Linked DNA regions of Homo sapiens: region 2 is linked to region 1. Evidence: fine-mapped expression QTL. Tissue or cell type: ileum. Region 1 holds a variant in brackets; the other region holds the start of a gene. All regions are shown on one strand. Distances are from middle to middle.

Evidence for each region. PIP is the estimated chance that this variant, and not a neighbour inherited with it, causes the effect.
Region 2: it holds the start of MEA1, and the variant in region 1 is fine-mapped to the expression of MEA1 in ileum (GTEx, PIP 0.95).

What each region holds. Positions count from the first base shown.
Region 1 is chr6:42,885,302-42,893,402 of GRCh38, forward strand. It overlaps RPL7L1 (ribosomal protein L7 like 1), which reads left to right. Exons shown (of 6, transcript NM_001366481.3): 5 at 673-782; 6 at 955-4,599. The coding sequence ends at 1,163. It overlaps PEX39 (peroxisomal biogenesis factor 39), which reads right to left and starts at 5,520. Exons shown (of 1, transcript NM_001008739.2): 1 at 4,964-5,520. The coding sequence starts at 5,487. The coding sequence ends at 5,182. RefSeq lists enhancers at 5,012-5,861, 5,922-5,971. The variant G/A (reference allele first, on the strand shown) is at 4,276.
Region 2 is chr6:43,009,548-43,017,630 of GRCh38, forward strand. MEA1 (male-enhanced antigen 1) reads right to left here and starts at 4,399. Exons shown (of 4, transcript NM_014623.4): 1 at 4,239-4,399; 2 at 3,568-3,842; 3 at 3,379-3,481; 4 at 1,596-3,074. The coding sequence starts at 4,266. The coding sequence ends at 2,923. It overlaps PPP2R5D (protein phosphatase 2 regulatory subunit B'delta), which reads left to right. Exons shown (of 16, transcript NM_006245.4): 13 at 921-1,022; 14 at 1,117-1,189; 15 at 1,334-1,450; 16 at 1,602-2,795. The coding sequence ends at 1,739. KLHDC3 (kelch domain containing 3) reads left to right here and starts at 4,702. Exons shown (of 11, transcript NM_057161.4): 1 at 4,702-4,801; 2 at 7,587-7,799; 3 at 7,972-8,083. The coding sequence starts at 7,646. RefSeq lists enhancers at 2,067-2,567, 4,531-4,650 and a silencer at 4,271-4,320.

The DNA of each region.
Region 1 (8,101 bases):
ATTGTGCCACTGCAATCCACTCTGTCTCAAAAAAAAAAAAAAAGGCCAGACACGGTGGATCACGAGGTCGGGAGATCGAGACCATCCTGGCTAACATGGTGAAACCCCGTCTCTACTAAAAATACAAAAAAAATTAGCCTGGCACCTGTAGTCCCAGCTACTTGGGAGGCTGAGGCAGGAGAATGGCATGAACCTGGGAGGCGGAGCTTGCAGTGAGTCGAGATCGTGCCACTGCACTCCAGCCTGGGAGACTGAGCAAGACTCCGTCTCAAAAAAAAAAAAAGAGTAGTATTCCTCAAACATTGAAACCCAACAAAAACTTGGATTTTATTTCCAACTCTTGCACCATCTTGAGTAGAGGGTCACCTAAGGCCAGAGTCGTAGCCCCTAAGGTAAGCTAGGACATGGTTTCTGTTTTGTTTTTGTTGGCAATATTTTCCCTGGTGAACATTTACATCCATAAATTTAAATTTCTAATTATGTAAGTGGGGTCACTTCAGTTCTTTATCAGGAGTATTTCCAAGCATTTCAGCTGGAATGTGATTGCAGAACACTTGCTCGTTGGGAGAAGTGAGTGTGTGGGAGAACCTCTCCAACCTCTCAGCCAGGCTGCAGGACTGGTATGTAGTGTGCCAGGTGCTGGTGAAAACCGTGCTTTATTTTCCTACATAGATTTCCAAATCTGAAGTCTGTCCGAGAACTCATTTTGAAACGTGGACAAGCCAAGGTCAAGAATAAGACCATCCCTCTGACAGACAATACAGTGATTGAGGAGCACCTGGGTGAGTGCTACAGCTTAGGGATCAGCTGGGGCAGAAAGCCAGGGTCTTTGAAGCTTTGATGTGAGATTCAGGTTGTATTCTTCTTGGGGCCCCAAGAGTCTGCCAGAGTGGCCAGCTTAGTATATGCTGGATACATGTTAAATAAAGGAATCTGTGCTTTTGTGTTTCTTAGGGAAGTTTGGCGTCATTTGCTTGGAAGACCTCATTCATGAAATTGCCTTCCCAGGGAAGCATTTCCAGGAGATCTCATGGTTCTTGTGCCCTTTCCACCTCTCAGTGGCCCGTCATGCTACCAAAAATAGAGTGGGCTTCCTCAAGGAGATGGGCACACCTGGCTATCGGGGTGAACGCATCAATCAGCTCATCCGTCAGCTGAACTAGACCCAGGTGAGGCAGGGCTGAAAACTGCCCTTGGGCTGACTTTTGATAGGCCATGCCTTGCCACTTTACAAGTTCTTTTTGCATTTACTAGTATTTAAGAGTAACCTTGAGATTGGGAGGAATAGAGGAGGCTGGTACAAATAGATGGAGACCTGCTGGGATCAGTGAATGCCTGATTAGGACATGGGGCTATGCATAGCCTAAGAGTTATAGGCTTAAAGATGTCGAGTAACTAAAAACTGTATTGCTGGCCGGGCGCGGTGGCTCACGCCTGTAATCCCAGCACTTTGGGAGGCCAAGGCGGGCAGACCATGAGGTCAGGAGATTGAGACCATCCTGGCCAACATGGTGAAACCCTGTCTCTACTAAAAATACAAAAATGAGCTGGGTGTGGTGGCGCGTGCCTGTAGTCCCAGCTACTCGAGAGGCTAAGGCAGGAAAATCGCTTGAACCCAGGAGGCAGAGATTGCAGTGAGCCAAGATTGCACCAGTGCACTCCAGCTGGGCGACAGAGCGAGACTCCATCTCGGAAAAAAAAAAAAAAAAACTATTGCTGCAGTCATTCAGATGGAAATGAGGAAAGAATAATATTAATAACTGATTTCAAAAAGGACTTGAAGATGTGAATCATCTATTTTGCTGAAGAAATCTTAACTCTTTGAAATTACTTTTTATTGCTGTTGTCATACTCTTAGGTGCCAAACTGCGGTAAATTTTTTATCAGTGAAGTGGAAGCATGTGTTTTGTTTTGGAAATTTTTATCAAGTATCTTCAGAGAAGATTATTTCCTGCTTTATCTTCAGAAACTGGAAAGGGTCAAAGAAAAGACAGTAGCTGGCCGGTCGTGGTGGCTCATGCCTGTAATCCCAACACTTAGGGAGGCTGAGGTGGGCAGATCACCTGAGGTTGGGAGTTCGAGACCAGCCTGACCAACATGGAGAAATGCCATCTCTACTAAAAATACAAAAATTAGCCGGGCATGGTGGCACGTGCCTGTAATCCCAGCTACTCAGGAGGCTGAGGCAGGAGAATCGCTTGAACCTGGGAGGTGGAAGTTGCAGTGAGCTGAGATCACGCCATTGCACTCCAGCCTGGGCAACAAGCGAAACTCTGTCTCAAAAAAAAAGAAAAGACAGTAGCATATGTTCATGTCAAGCACCTCTCATCACAGTCGAGTTCCAAGGAAAAATTCCAGTGTTTTCTGCATTGGGTGCTGTGTCATCTGAAATCGGCACATTCCATGGAGGAAGGAGTCCTGCTTTGTTGCATGTATCCTAGGGTTTAATGTTGGTAAATGAGTCACTCTAGCATTTGTAGAAGGCTCCCTGAGACTCCTGCAGCAGTCGACCAAGCCCAAGGACATAATTGAATCTGGAGAGTCCTGGGGCCTTGTTTTGAAAAAGACTTGAAATACACATAGGAAGAAAGGCATAAAAATAAATGTTCACTTGTCTCTGCTGTGAGTATGTGTTCCAACTTTTCAGTGATGGCTTTGAGAATTCTCAAACTTGACTGGCTCTAAGTGTATCTGGTGGCTTTTGTATCGTAACCTGAAACTGGCTTAGTACTTTTTCCTAAAAGCTCAGGATTTGAGAATGAGGACCCCTTCGCCAGGAAAACATGTATACACTCAAAATTTTGCTTGCAGTTCTAGGGTGTTTAGACCCTTCTCAGATACCTGTGCATCTTATGGGTTTTGTTTTTCTCTTTGAGACAGTCTCACCCTGTTGCCCAGGCTGGAGCGCAGTGGCATGATCTCAGCTCATTGCAGCCTCCACCTCCTGGGTTCAAGTGATTCTGCCTCAGCCCCTTGATCAGCTGGGATTACATGCATGTACCACCACACCCAGCTAATTCTTGTATTTTTAGTAGAGATGGAGACAGAGTTTCACCATGTAGGCCAGGCTAGTCTCAAACTCCTGACCTCAAGTGATCCACAAGCCTGGGCCTCCCAAAGTGCTGGGATTACAGGCATGAGCAACTGCGCCCAGCTCTTGTGTACCTTATGTGAGGAAGTCCTGCTCAATCAGGATCGGTCACGCAGGCCCTGATCTTGCTACTCTGGTTCCATGTCCTATGGAAGACCAAAGTTTACCAAGATAGATTTTTCCCTTCATAGTGGCAGATAGTGTTAACCCCTGCACCATCTGTAACTCAGAAATCCCCACCATTTCTTCCCCTGGGCTTCAGAATAGAATTGCCTGGTTTCTCTGATGATCAGCATGGTTCCTTAAAACCCAAATCAGCAAGGAATGAACAATTTTGTTTGGCATGGATGAAATTAGCACTGTTTGGCTCGTTAGGCCCCAGGCAGGCAGGCACCTTAATTTTTTCCTTGCATATTCTAGTCTTCAGAAGCATTGCCTTTTGTCCTACTGGTAGTGACATAGACCAATAACAGGGCATCTGGGGATTTTAATCCTGAAAACAGTGAGTCTGATACTGCTTGTGTTTTTCATCAGTGTCCACCCCAAGTGGGTCTTCCTGCTATTCTCTTCACTTAGTTGCCCCTCACTTGCCATCTGAGCAATTGGCAAGGATGTGCCAGGCCTAGGTTAAACTTGGAAACATGCTTGACCATTCTATTCCCTGGTCCTTTAAGATCAGTTTGGCTGCAATTTTGGCTCCTTGGACCCTCAAGCATAGCTGGTAAATCAAGTTAGAGATGTAACTGCCTTAAAACATGCCAGCTTAGGCTGGGCACGGTGGCTCACACCTGTAATCTCAACACTTCAGGAGGCTGAGGCAGGCAGATCACTTGAGGTCAGGAGTTCGAGACCAGCCTGACCAACATGGAGAAATTCTGTCCCTACTGAAAATACAAAATTAGCCGGATGTGGTGGTGCATGCCTGTAATCCCAGCTACTTGGGAGGCTGAGGCAAGAGAATTGCTTGAACCCAGGGAGGCAGAGGTTGCAGTGAGCCGAGATCACACCATTGCACTCCACCTTGGGCAACAAAAGCAAAACTCTGTCTCAAAAAAAAAAAAAAAAAAAGTGCCAGCGTATGAGGTAATTAGATTGGTTCTCTCCAGAGGTAACCTGCCAAGAAGAGATGCTATAGATGTTACTCCTATACTGTAAAACATTGTGAAATCAGATTACTTTAAAAT[G/A]ATGTATTACAAAGTTATGCAAAAAAGCAGTTGTGACTATGGAAGCCCAAGGCTTATATCCCAGCTCTGTCTTACACTAAATATGGGTACAGTGTTTCCACTCTGTCCATAAAATGGGAGCTAATATTCTCCAACCTGTGTGCCTGACATGATGGTTAAAGGGATTAAACAAAACAATAGTTTGTAATTTATTCTGTCAGAGCAAACTGCTGGTAAATAAAAGGGACTAAGTTGACGAAAAATAAATTTTAAAAAACCTAATAAAACAAGTTTGTAATTTATAATTGTATACAAATAAAAGATGTTACAAAAATTGCGCACTTATATGTATGTACCATGACATAACTAATTCGTTGAACAAGTTGTGAGACAATCCTTTCTGAGAAAAGGTAGACCTGTTACATCGTCTGTGGGTTAGGGTCATGTCAGCACGTACCAGGTACATTCTAGCTTTTGTAGAGAAAGTAAAATCTAGTGTTGAGTATGTAGGCACTGAGCCAGGTGGCCTGCTTAACATAAAAGGACTGATTTCAGGGTGGCTGTGGGAGCCTTTCTAATGCTCTAATTCTCTAGCCCCTTGCCTGATCCAGCTGATTCCAAGAGCCAAGATTTTAGTCTTTCTTGGTTGGCTTTTTTAAATGCTTTGGGCTTTCCTTTAATGTATCTTCAAAATCATTCTGGGGCCAAGTTACATCATAAAACATTTTATTACATATAAGGACTGAAACAGGATTTTTCTTAACTGTAACATGGTCCACAAATGTAAATGCAAAACCCCCATGGTGGTTGCAGGAGCAAGTCTAGTTGAGACAGGTCAGGACGAAAGCATAAAAGATGAGTAACTGAATGGCATCCCGGGTCCTGTAGCCACGCCCTCCAGATCGCCGCCGCAAAGGACCTGGAACCTCAGGGGCCCACTGTATGCCATGAAGAAGGCGCAGTCGCTGCCTCAACCAAGCCAGGCTCCGCCGGGGCCGTTCCTATCCTGAGGGTCGGAGGGGGAAGGGACTCAGCCAAAGCCGCGGCCTCCCAGGGCTTGGGCCTCCGCGGCAGCCGGGACGCTGTGGGTTCGCCGTGGATCGCCGCGATGTGGCGTTTCTCCAGGCCCGGGAGTTCCTGGCCCTGCTGGACCAGCTGCAGGAGCTGCGCCAGGGTAACCGAAGCTGAGGCAGAGGCCGGGGCCGAGCATTGGGGACTGCGGGGACGCTCCATGTCGGGTCGCGAATCCTGACCGGCGTGTAATGCAGAGAAGCGAGCACTTCCGGGCCGAATGGGTGCAACCACCATGGGGGAGGTGGGGAAAGGAAAGGGAGGCTGTAGACCGTACCAAGCCGGCCCAGAACTGGGGGAGCACTTGACAACTCTGACCAGCTCCCTGCAGAAACGCTTTAGAAGCGTCCACGATTTAGCCAAACCCAGAGTGCCCAACGGACGCGCCAAAGAAGAAAAACGGACGGACGTGCCAAAACTTGAAGGCTAGCACAGGACAGAACAAGCCTGCGGACGCGCCGCTGCGGGCAAAAAGACCCATACATACATAAGCACCGCGCACATGCCCATTTTCATGCACACCCCCGGGCGCGCGTACAAGGATTCAGATACAACGCATGGCGGGGGATAATCCCCATACTAGGCTCCGCAGCACGGGACAAAGCATAACTGTAGAGTTGTTCCCAGAGGCCTCAGGAGTGACACCGCCACCAAGCCACGCTACTCTCTTAGTTGTTATTATTGTTTTGTGTTGTTTTAGACGGAGTCTCACTCTGTTGCCCAGGCCGGAGTGCAGCGATGCGATCTCAGCGCACTGCAACCTCCGCCTCCTGGTTCAAGCGATCCACAGGGTCCCTAGTGCCTCAGCCTCCCTAGTAGCTGGTGTATGCCACCAAGCCCAGCTAATTTTTGTATTTTTAGTAGAAACAGGGTTTCACCATGTTGGCTAGGCTAGTCTCGAACTCCTGACCTTAAGTGATGCACCCGCCTCAGCTTTCCAAAGTGCGGGGATTACAGGTGTGAGCCACCGCACCCAGCCAGAGCCTCACCACTTTCTTCACACTTCCTGCCATCCTTCAATTCTTGGTGGTCCCAGAGAAGATCGAAGGTGAAAGCAGGTCAGATGTGCTACAGCTGCTCTGACTGCTCGGAAAGTCAGGTTTTTAAATTATCAAAAGTGGCCGGGCACGGTGGCTCACACTTGTAATCCCAGCACTTTGGGAGGTGGAGGCAGGTGGATCTCAAGGTCAGGAGTTTGAGACCAGCCTGACCAACATGGGGCAACCCCCGTCTCTACTAAAAATACAAAAATTAGCTGGGTGTGGTGGCATGCACCTGTAATCCCAGCTACTCAGGAGGCTGAGGCAGGAGAATCGCTTGAACCTGGGAGGCAGAAGTTGCAGTGAGCTGAGATTGCAGCACTGCACTCTACCCTCGGTGACACAGCAAAACTCTGTCTCAAAAAAAAAAAAAAAAAGTATCAAAAGCTAGACTGATCTGGTGAACATCACCTTAATCAAAGAATCAAAGCTTAATGGCCAGGCGTGGTGGCTCACACCTGTAATCCCAGCACTTTGGGAGGCTGAGGTGGGCAGGTCACCTGAGATCAGGAGTTTGAGACCAGCCTGGCCAACATGGCGAAACCCCATCTCTACTAAAAATACAAAAAAATTAGCCAGGCATAGTGGTGCGCACCTGTAATCCCACCTACTTGGGAGGCTGAGGCAGAAGAATTGCTTGAACCTAGGAGGCAGGGAGGTTGCAGTGAGATGAGATCACACCACTGCACTCCAGCCTGGGCAACAGAGTGAGACTCAGTCTCAAAAAAAAAAAAAAAAAAAAAGCTTAATAGGACAAACTGGCCTTGTGTGCCTTCTGATGTGATGCACTGGGAAGGACACACACACGGGGAGTACATTTCTGTAGTAGTCCTCCCCAAAATGCCCAAAAAATGTTCACTCACCACCTAGTCTTGAGGAAATAGAGATCAAAGTGAGAGAGATTCTGCAAAATGATTGGTCTGGACACTTTACAGATGTCGTTGTTATAAAACATTAAGAAAAAGCTAAGAACTACCCCAGATTAAAGGAGACATAAAAAATAAATACAGGCCAGACACAGTGGCTCATGCCTTTAATCCCAGCACTTTGGGAGGCTGAGGTCGGTGGATTGCTTGAACTCAGGAATTCAAGACCAGCCTGGGCAATATAGCAAAACCCCATCTCTACTAAAAAATACAAAAAAAAAAAATTGCTGAACATGGTGGTGGACACCTGTAGTCCCAGCTATTCTGGAGGCAGTGGTCGAAGAATCGCTTGAACCCGGGTAGGTGGAGGTTGCACTGAGCTGTGATTGCCAGCAACTTCCGACTGGGAGACAGAGTGAAACTCTGTCTCCAAAAATAAAATAAAATATAAATAAATAAATAAATTCAATGAGTGATCCTGGATTAGATGCAAGATTGTGTAGGGGAGATCAGCTCTAAAGGACATTTTACCCTTGGGGAAATTTGAATATGATCCATATATTAGATGACAACGATATATCAATGTTAAATTTATCAAGTGTGATAATTGTGGTTATGTGTGGGAATTACCTTGTTCATAGCAAATACATTCTGAAGTATGTAGAGGTGAAGTGTCATGATGACAGAAAGAAAGCAAATGTGGCAAAATTGCTAAGAATTAGTGAATCCACGTGAGGGTTTGAAACTTGTCAAAATAAAAAGTTGGGGTAGGCCCGGTGCAGTGGCTCACGCCTATAATCCCAGCACTTTGGGAGTGGTCAAGGCAGGAGGATCACTTGAACCCAGGAGTTCAAGACTAACCTGGGCAAC
Region 2 (8,083 bases), 120 kb after region 1:
GCAAGTGGGGCTGATGTCCCCTGCATGTTGATAGGACCTTGAGGGGCTGACTGGAGCGAAAAGATGCCTGTGTGCAAGATCTCTGTGATACCAAACAGCAGGGCAGCGGCCTGTTACACCGCTCCTTGGGTTCAGCTATTCTACAGGTCCTATCACAGCTTTGGAGATGTAATTCTATGCAGTGAGAAGCTGATGTGACCTTCTTTGAGAGTATGTGTAAAGAATCCCAGGGTTTTAGGCCGGGCACGGTGTCTCACGCCTGTAATCCTAGCACTTTGGGAGGCTGGCAAGGCGGGTGGATCACGAGGTCAGGAGTTTGAGACCAGCCTGCCCAACATAGTGAAACCCCCATCTCTACTAAAAATACAAAAATTAGCTGGGTGTAGTGGTGGATGCCTGTAGTCCCAGCTACTTGGGAGGCTGAGGCAGGAGAATCACTTGAACCTGGGAGGTGACGGTTGCAGTGAGCCGAGATCGTGCCACTGCACTCCAGCCTGGGCAACAGAGTGAGACTCCGTCTTAAAAAAAAAACTCAGGGTTTTGAAAAGACTTTTCTGCTAAAAGCAAGCACACTGTGGTGTAGATGCAGTCTGTCATGCTGCATCTACATGCCCATCATGCTGCTGGGAGGCCATTAGTGTGGGTTAGAGTGGGAAAGGATGGGAGGTAGGCAGGCCTTGGAGCATGGGGTGAGGGAAGGATGGACAGGTGGACCGATATTTGTGAAAACCATGAAATGCCAGTCTCAAACCAGGTGATTTGGCCAGAGCTCTCTTCTGATACTGCACAGAGGTTTGTGAACTGGAAGTAGTAAATGACAAAGCTCTTAGCAGAGATACCCCTGTGAGAGAACAAATTGGGTTCCTCACGCTAAGGGCAGGCTCTGGCCTCCTACACCTCATCTTTCTTCTTGGTGGCAGGACAATCCATGGACTGATCTATAATGCCCTGAAGTTGTTTATGGAAATGAATCAGAAGCTGTTTGATGACTGCACACAACAATACAAGGCAGAGAAGCAGAAGTGAGTATCTCTCTCCCCGGGAGACTTTCATCTTCTACCACCAGCTCACTGTGTTTCTCTCAAGCCCAACCCCAATCCTACTTTTGCTCCTCAGGGGCCGGTTCCGAATGAAGGAAAGGGAAGAGATGTGGCAAAAAATCGAGGAGCTGGCCCGGCTTAATCCCCAGGTGAGGTTTTCCTGCCACTGTTGTGAACTGAGGGGCCAGCCCATCTTGAGCTGGGGGAGAGTTTGTTGGGGGAGGAATATGGGGCACACAGGCCCCCAAGCCTCTGAAGTGGCTCTTAACGCTTGTCCATGTCTCCTCACTCAGTATCCCATGTTCCGAGCCCCTCCACCACTGCCCCCTGTGTACTCGATGGAGACAGAGACCCCCACAGCTGAGGACATCCAGCTTCTGAAGAGGACTGTGGAGACTGAGGCTGTTCAGGTGGGAGGGCAATGTAGGGGGATGGAGCAGAAATAATAGCTCTGGAAGGGAGAGGAGACAGAAACAGCAGAGCCAAAGAATAAGGGGACGGAACAATAGAATTCACTGGGAATTGGTCACCATTCCTCACCTTGTCCCTATTCACACACAGATGCTAAAAGACATCAAGAAGGAGAAAGTGCTGCTGCGGAGGAAGTCGGAGCTGCCCCAGGACGTGTACACCATCAAGGCACTGGAGGCGCACAAGCGGGCGGAAGAGTTCCTAACTGCCAGCCAGGAGGCTCTCTGACCCCTCACGTTCCTACCACAGGGCCACAGCCCACACAGCCCTGGGACACTGCCCTGGCCCTCCATACTCTGCTCCCTACTGGCTGTCTTGGGGGAAGGCAGCGCCTCTCTAGCTACTCAAGGGAGGGGGATGTGGGCACTTGAAGCAGGGACACCCACAGAATGGTCCCTCTTCTCCCCAAAAGGTGTTCATGCCTCCCTGTGGCTAGTACAGGCTGAGCACTAAGATGCTTAGTGCTCAGACAACCTGGGGATGCCTGTCCCCTACCTGCTCCTCACCCACAGCTACCTGAGGCTGCTCTGAGAAGTACACACAGGAATACATACGCTCCTCTATTCTTCCCTTCATCCTCATTTGAACGCCAGGTATCTCCCCTCCTCTCTCTCCCCTGCAGAGGCATGTAGGGAACAGCAGGAGATTATTCTCACCAAAGTTATGTCAAGCCCCATTGGTCCCAGAGTAGCTGAAGGGAAGCCAACCCCCCTGCAGCACAAATAGGCCCCCCAGTCCCAGCCGTGTGCTGGCAGATAGGGTTGTATTATTTCTTCTTACCCCATGCCTGACCAAGGGAGGTCAAAAGGAGAAAAGTATAGGCTGTGGACAATAACTGATGAATATAGGGCCCAGATGGACCAAGTGGGGCCGGGGAGGGATGAATAAACACCCTACCCCGTGCCCTGTCTTTGGTGAGCAGCAGCCCTGGGGTCACAGACATGGAAGGGACCACCCTGGGGCTGACTGCTTTTCTGTGCTGTTGGTTCCCAAAACTAGAAAGAAGGAAGCAGGGAGCGGTGCCCCAAGCATGGCTCCTGCCAACACCTATTTATTTCCTTGTTTGTGCTATGCTGGGCAGGCCTTCTCTTGTCCCTTATAGGTACCTTGGAGGGGCCAGGGGCTGAGGAAGGCCGGACCCAGGTTCCAGGGGCGCAGGCAGTGCGGCTTTTGGCTGTGTACATAGGGTGCTTTATTCTCCACAGAGTGATACATGCTAAGGTGGGTTGGGCTTGGACCGATGTCCCCATATGTACAGAACTGAATAAAGTGGGTCTCTGAGAAGTCTGATGTGCCTTGATGTGGAAAGGGAGACGGGGAAGATGGAAATGGACATTACAACCAGGGATGTGTTCAGTCCTGTGCTGGTTCTGGCCTGGAATGTAGGAATATAAGGCAGCTCTCACTGTGGTCACTTCCAGGCAGGGGATGCCTGCCGGGCTTGGAGGGCTTTCTGTACCACATCTTCCCACTGGGCATCCGATATCTCCCGAGCCCAGGCAGGAACCCCTGGCGCAGGCAGGCTTACTCCAGCCATTGTCCTTTTCACCAGCTCTACATGTTCTGAAATCAGAGCCAGAGGCCATTCAGGCATAGAAATAATGGGACCAGCTCCCCTCCCCAATCCCCGAATCAACCCAGAGCCCTTGGGCTGCTAGGGTCACCAAATCCACCTTGTTACTTTAAGGCAAGCCTGCCCATCCCCAAAGCTAGCAAAAGAGCATTTCACTTGGACTCTGAAGTCTACAAAATCTTAGTTTACAAACTATCTTTTTAGGATAGGGTCTTCCTCTGAAACTTCCTTCTACTGACTCATGCCAGTTCATTTCCTTAGTAATTATTCCAGAATGAAAGAATGATCTTTTACCTGGGTCCATGGGAATAGAGCTGTGGTTGTTCAACGCTGTAGCTCCCTCCTCATCTTCATCTTCACTCTCTAATGGTGGGTCTGGCAAATGAAGCCCCAGGGCCTGCAGAGCCACAGAAGACCGTTTGGGTCTAGGCTTTCAGGGAGCCCAGCTTCACCTGTTCAGGAACCATCCCTCCTCCACCCTACCTGGATTCGATCCTGGATGTCAGCAACTACATCTCCATCCCCCACTGGTGCCAGTTCCACCTCCTCTTGTTCAGGATCTTGGTTCAGGGGCTGGTAGGAGTAGCCAGCTGGGCCCGACCCCGTTTCCTCCTGCTCTTCCTCAGGCTCCTCACTGCTCCAATCCCCAGTGCCTTCTGAAGGGCCCTGATGTCCCAGTTCCTCAGTCTGATTGGGGAAGATACGCTCAGGGCCCATGGTGTCTCCTCCTAGAACTACTGTTGCCATCCGGGCAGGGGCTGCAAGAACAGGGAGGCGGTAGGACAGGGATCGGATGAAACCAGGCCCATCTTCATCCTCTCATCATCTCCTTGTAGTCTCCTGCGTGCAAAAAACCAGCTCCTCCCCGAGGCTCCTGCATCCTCCACCCCTCCGCCCCAATTCCAGCCTCTCGTTCCTCCCCCTCCTAAGTCGGGGTTCTTATCTTGAACCAGGCCCCACCAACTTGCTCCGCCACTTCCTAGTTAAACGCCCAACCGGAGGCCCTGCCACCTCCTAAAAGACACCCCTTCCAGAACCCCGGCTCCCCGCGCCACGCCTCCCCCGCGACTTGGGAACTCTGGGTCATCAGACTCCCCTAAACAGGTCGGCGTACCCGCCCCCTTCTCCCCTCTCCTAGAGGACCCCCTCTGTACCGCCTGACAGATGCCTTTCAGGCCCCATGGGCTCCCCTCAAATGGCCCCAGCTGCAGCGTCCCCCACCCGCCCCCATCCGAATCCCGGCGCCGGTGTTCCCGCGCGCCTCACCCGCTCAGAGCCCGCGGCCTCCACTTCCGGCGGGGCAGGACGTGCAGAGGTGCCTAGTCCTCCAGCCCCGCCCCATATCCATGATTGACGCTGGCGAGGACGAGGAGTCCGCCCCTTGCCCCGCCTCCGTCATTCCCAGCCCAAAAAACAAAGGACTGCATTACCCAGTGGCCTCCTCGGTCTCGACACATATTTGCACATGCGCAGAATCTCTCCTACGCCCCTGCCCACTCCTCAGCCCTCTCGTCCCTCAGGAAACGTATGGACTACAAGTCCCGAAATGCCTCCGGCACTTAGCTACGACTGCACGTGCGCGCACAGCTGCCCGCCGGAAGAACCGAGCTTGGCTGTGTTTATCTCGTTGGGGACTAAGGCGTCGGTTGGCGCGCAACGGGTTCTAGGCTGCAGGCAGCTCGAGGACCCGCGGCCCCGCCCCGGCTCGGCCTGGCAGGTAGCCTGGGATGGGTAGAAGGGCAAGGGAGAATTAGGGGGCTTAGGACGTGCTGTCTGGAGCTGGAGTGGCGGGGGAGGGGCCTGAGAGTGATGAGGTGGGGGTGGGGAGGGAGCTAGGGGGATGATGGGAAAGGAGAGTGTTAATGGGGAAAGCAGGGCTAGGGGAGGATGGCGAGGAGATGGGTAGGAGAGACCTGGTGTCTGGAGGAAGCAATGAAGGAAATGGGAAGGAAGACTGGGCCATGAAAACAGGGAAGCTGAGCATAATGGAAGGGGAGGGGTGTCTGGCGTGGTGGGCTAGGGGAGGCCGGAATGTCTGGAAGAAGACAGGGATAGAGTCATATGCAGAGAGGGGTATCGTGGTCAGTGCATGCTAATTTTTCTTTCCTTAGTGGAGGTGGGAAAATGGAGGGCTGTTGGGTGGAGCTTGGAATGGTAGGAGAAGGAAAAATGAGAAAACTGCAAAGCTCTCACGAGATCAAGAAGGGCGAGAAATGGGGAATAAAAAATGCAAGAGACCAGGCGGGTAGATACATTAAGGGAATAGAAGAAGTTTGAAAATGCTTGGTGGTGATGGAGGACTGGGGAGACCCAGGGATAAGAGGAGCCCCTGAGCGCCTGGGGGCTTGTTCTCCTTGAATTTGAGTTGTTTATATGGCAGAGAAACTAAAATTTTTTTTCTCCACCTTTGGCTGGAATTGCTTATCTCCTCTCCTGTGCATATTTTACTTTACCTTGACATATCTGAAGGGAAGAATAGAGAATATAAGGGAGGATGGAAGACTTCCATTCTTAAGCCCATCGACCTCCTAACAGTCTCCACAAGCCCAGACCCAAGATATTTTGGAGAGCGGGAGTAATGAAGTGAGAGTAGCTTCCTGCTGGGGCTATTTCAGGATGGGTCCCATGGCTATTTAAAGCTTAGGGTGTGGAGTTGGGGGAGGTTGGGTGGGTGGGACTAGCAAGCCAGCTGAAAGCCATGTCTCTTTCCTGCAAGGGGCCTCCCTTATTTGAGCTGTTTTAGTGCCTGAGGTTTTGCCTGGCCCTTTCCTCTGCCAGGGCTTCTTAAACAGGGAGCAGATGATGATACACCCAAACTCAGGAGATGCTTGCCAGCAAAAGCATTGTCAGTTGCAAGGATTTGCCTGAAAAAACCTCAGATGTACCCAGGTGTACGTGCCACTAGGTTGACAGGTTGTGTTTAAGAGACCATGACCAGCTGGGCATGGTGGCTCACGCCTGTAATCCCAGCACTTCAGGAGACCGAGGACGGTGGATCACCTGAGGTCAGGAGTTTGAGACCAGCCTGGCCAACATAGTGAGACCCCATCTCTACTAAAAATACAAAAATTAGCTGGGCATGGTGGCAGGCGCCTGTAATCCCAGCTACTTGGGAGGCTGAGGCAGGAGAATCGCTTGAACCCGGGAGGGAGGCAGAGTTTGCAGTGAGCTGAGATTGCACCATTGCGCTCCAGCCTGGGGGCAAGAGCGAGACTTCATCTAAAAAAAAAAAAAAAAAAAAAGACCATGACTTCTCATGCTGGATCTTTCTCTTGTCCTGCCCAAGGGCATTTTTTGCCTCCCTTCCCCTTTTTTTTTGTTTTGAGACAGAGTCTCGCTCTGTCGCCAGACTGGAGTGCAGTGGTGTGATCTCGGCTCACTCCAACCTCCGCCACCCGAGTGCAAGCAATTCTCCTGCCTCAGCCTCCTGAGTAGCTGGGACTACAGGTGCGCGCCACCGTGCCCAGCTAATTTTTGTATTTTTAGTAGAGACGGGTTTCACCATGTTGGCCAGGATGGTCTCCGTCTCTTGATCTCGTGATCCACCTGCCTCGGCCTCTCAGGGTGCTGGGATTACAGGTGTGAGCCACTGTGCCCAGCCCCTTCCCCTTTGCATTGCACACTCCCACCTCTATCCGCCTTTCAGGAACCCAAGTTGTGGAAGAGCTTGTTCTCTCTTTTCTACTGGAAATGGCTTGTTCTCTACCACAGTAGCAGGGATGGGGAAGTGGCAGGAGGAGAAAACCCCTCCCTCTATCACCATCCCCCAAGCCTAAGCATACACATACCTTTCTGGCTTAAGTCCTGGCAGCATACCAGGCACAGCTGTCAAAGGAACTCCTTGTGCCTGTGGGGGGCCCTGGGTGACCCCAATGACAACAACTCAGCTTGACAGGAGCTCCCTGTGAGGGGCTAACCAACCGCGGTAACATGGAGGTCCCTGTCCTGGATCAGTCCCGCCCTATCTTGGGTAGGGGGATTGTTCCACTCTAAAAGCCTGAAAGCTTTTCTGCTTTGAGGCACTCATGCCAGCTTTCAATGGACTGTTTGAGGCTGGCTGGGCTATTAATAGCTGTGAGTATTTTGAGATCCCTTTCCCCACCTCAAAGAACACAGATTCTTAGAGAGGTGGCAGTAAGCAGAGCAGAGACAAGAGAATATACCGTTTGGGAAGGGGGCTTCAAGTTTGTGCCAAGCCAGGGACAGAGTGGAGCCTCCACGAGTAGGTTGTGACCATGATATGCAGATTCTGAGCTGGCAATCAGGTGGGGGTGGCCCCACCCTTCACTGTTGGAGAACACTGGGCCCAGGCTGCTCCCTGACCTCGGCAGCTCCCTTGGGGCAGGGCCAGCCACCTGAGCTGAGACTAGTGCCCCTGTGGAGGGGTAGTGTGGGAGGGCCCCCAGGGTGACACTTGGAGGCAAAGGCTGGTTCTGGGCAGAGTCACAGTGAGCTGGGCAGAAGCCTCGCCTGAGGATCCCGTGGCCCCAATTTGTGTGCAGATAGCAGAGGCAGCAGGCCGTGCCGGGGGGGCATGTTGCTGTAACCAGTGGCCCAGGGGATGTTACGGTGGACAGTGCACCTGGAGGGCGGGCCCCGCAGGGTGAACCATGCTGCAGTGGCTGTCGGGCATCGGGTATACTCCTTCGGGGGTTACTGCTCTGGTGAAGACTATGAGACACTGCGTCAGATAGATGTGCACATTTTCAATGCAGGTAAGCCAATGCTGGGGCTGTCCCTGGGTCCCCACATCAGGGTGGGAACGGGCTGCTGATGAGGTTTGGCTGTGGTCTCTGGGACCAAGGGGATTGGGGACAAACATCTGGTTTGGGAAAAGTGGACAGCCTGGAGGGAGGTTCCCAGGGCTGAGCAGAGCTGTGCCCACAGTGTCCTTGCGTTGGACAAAGCTGCCCCCGGTGAAGTCTGCCATCCGTGGGCAAGCTCCTGTGGTACCCTACATGCGCTATGGACACTCAACCGTCCTCATCGACGACACAGT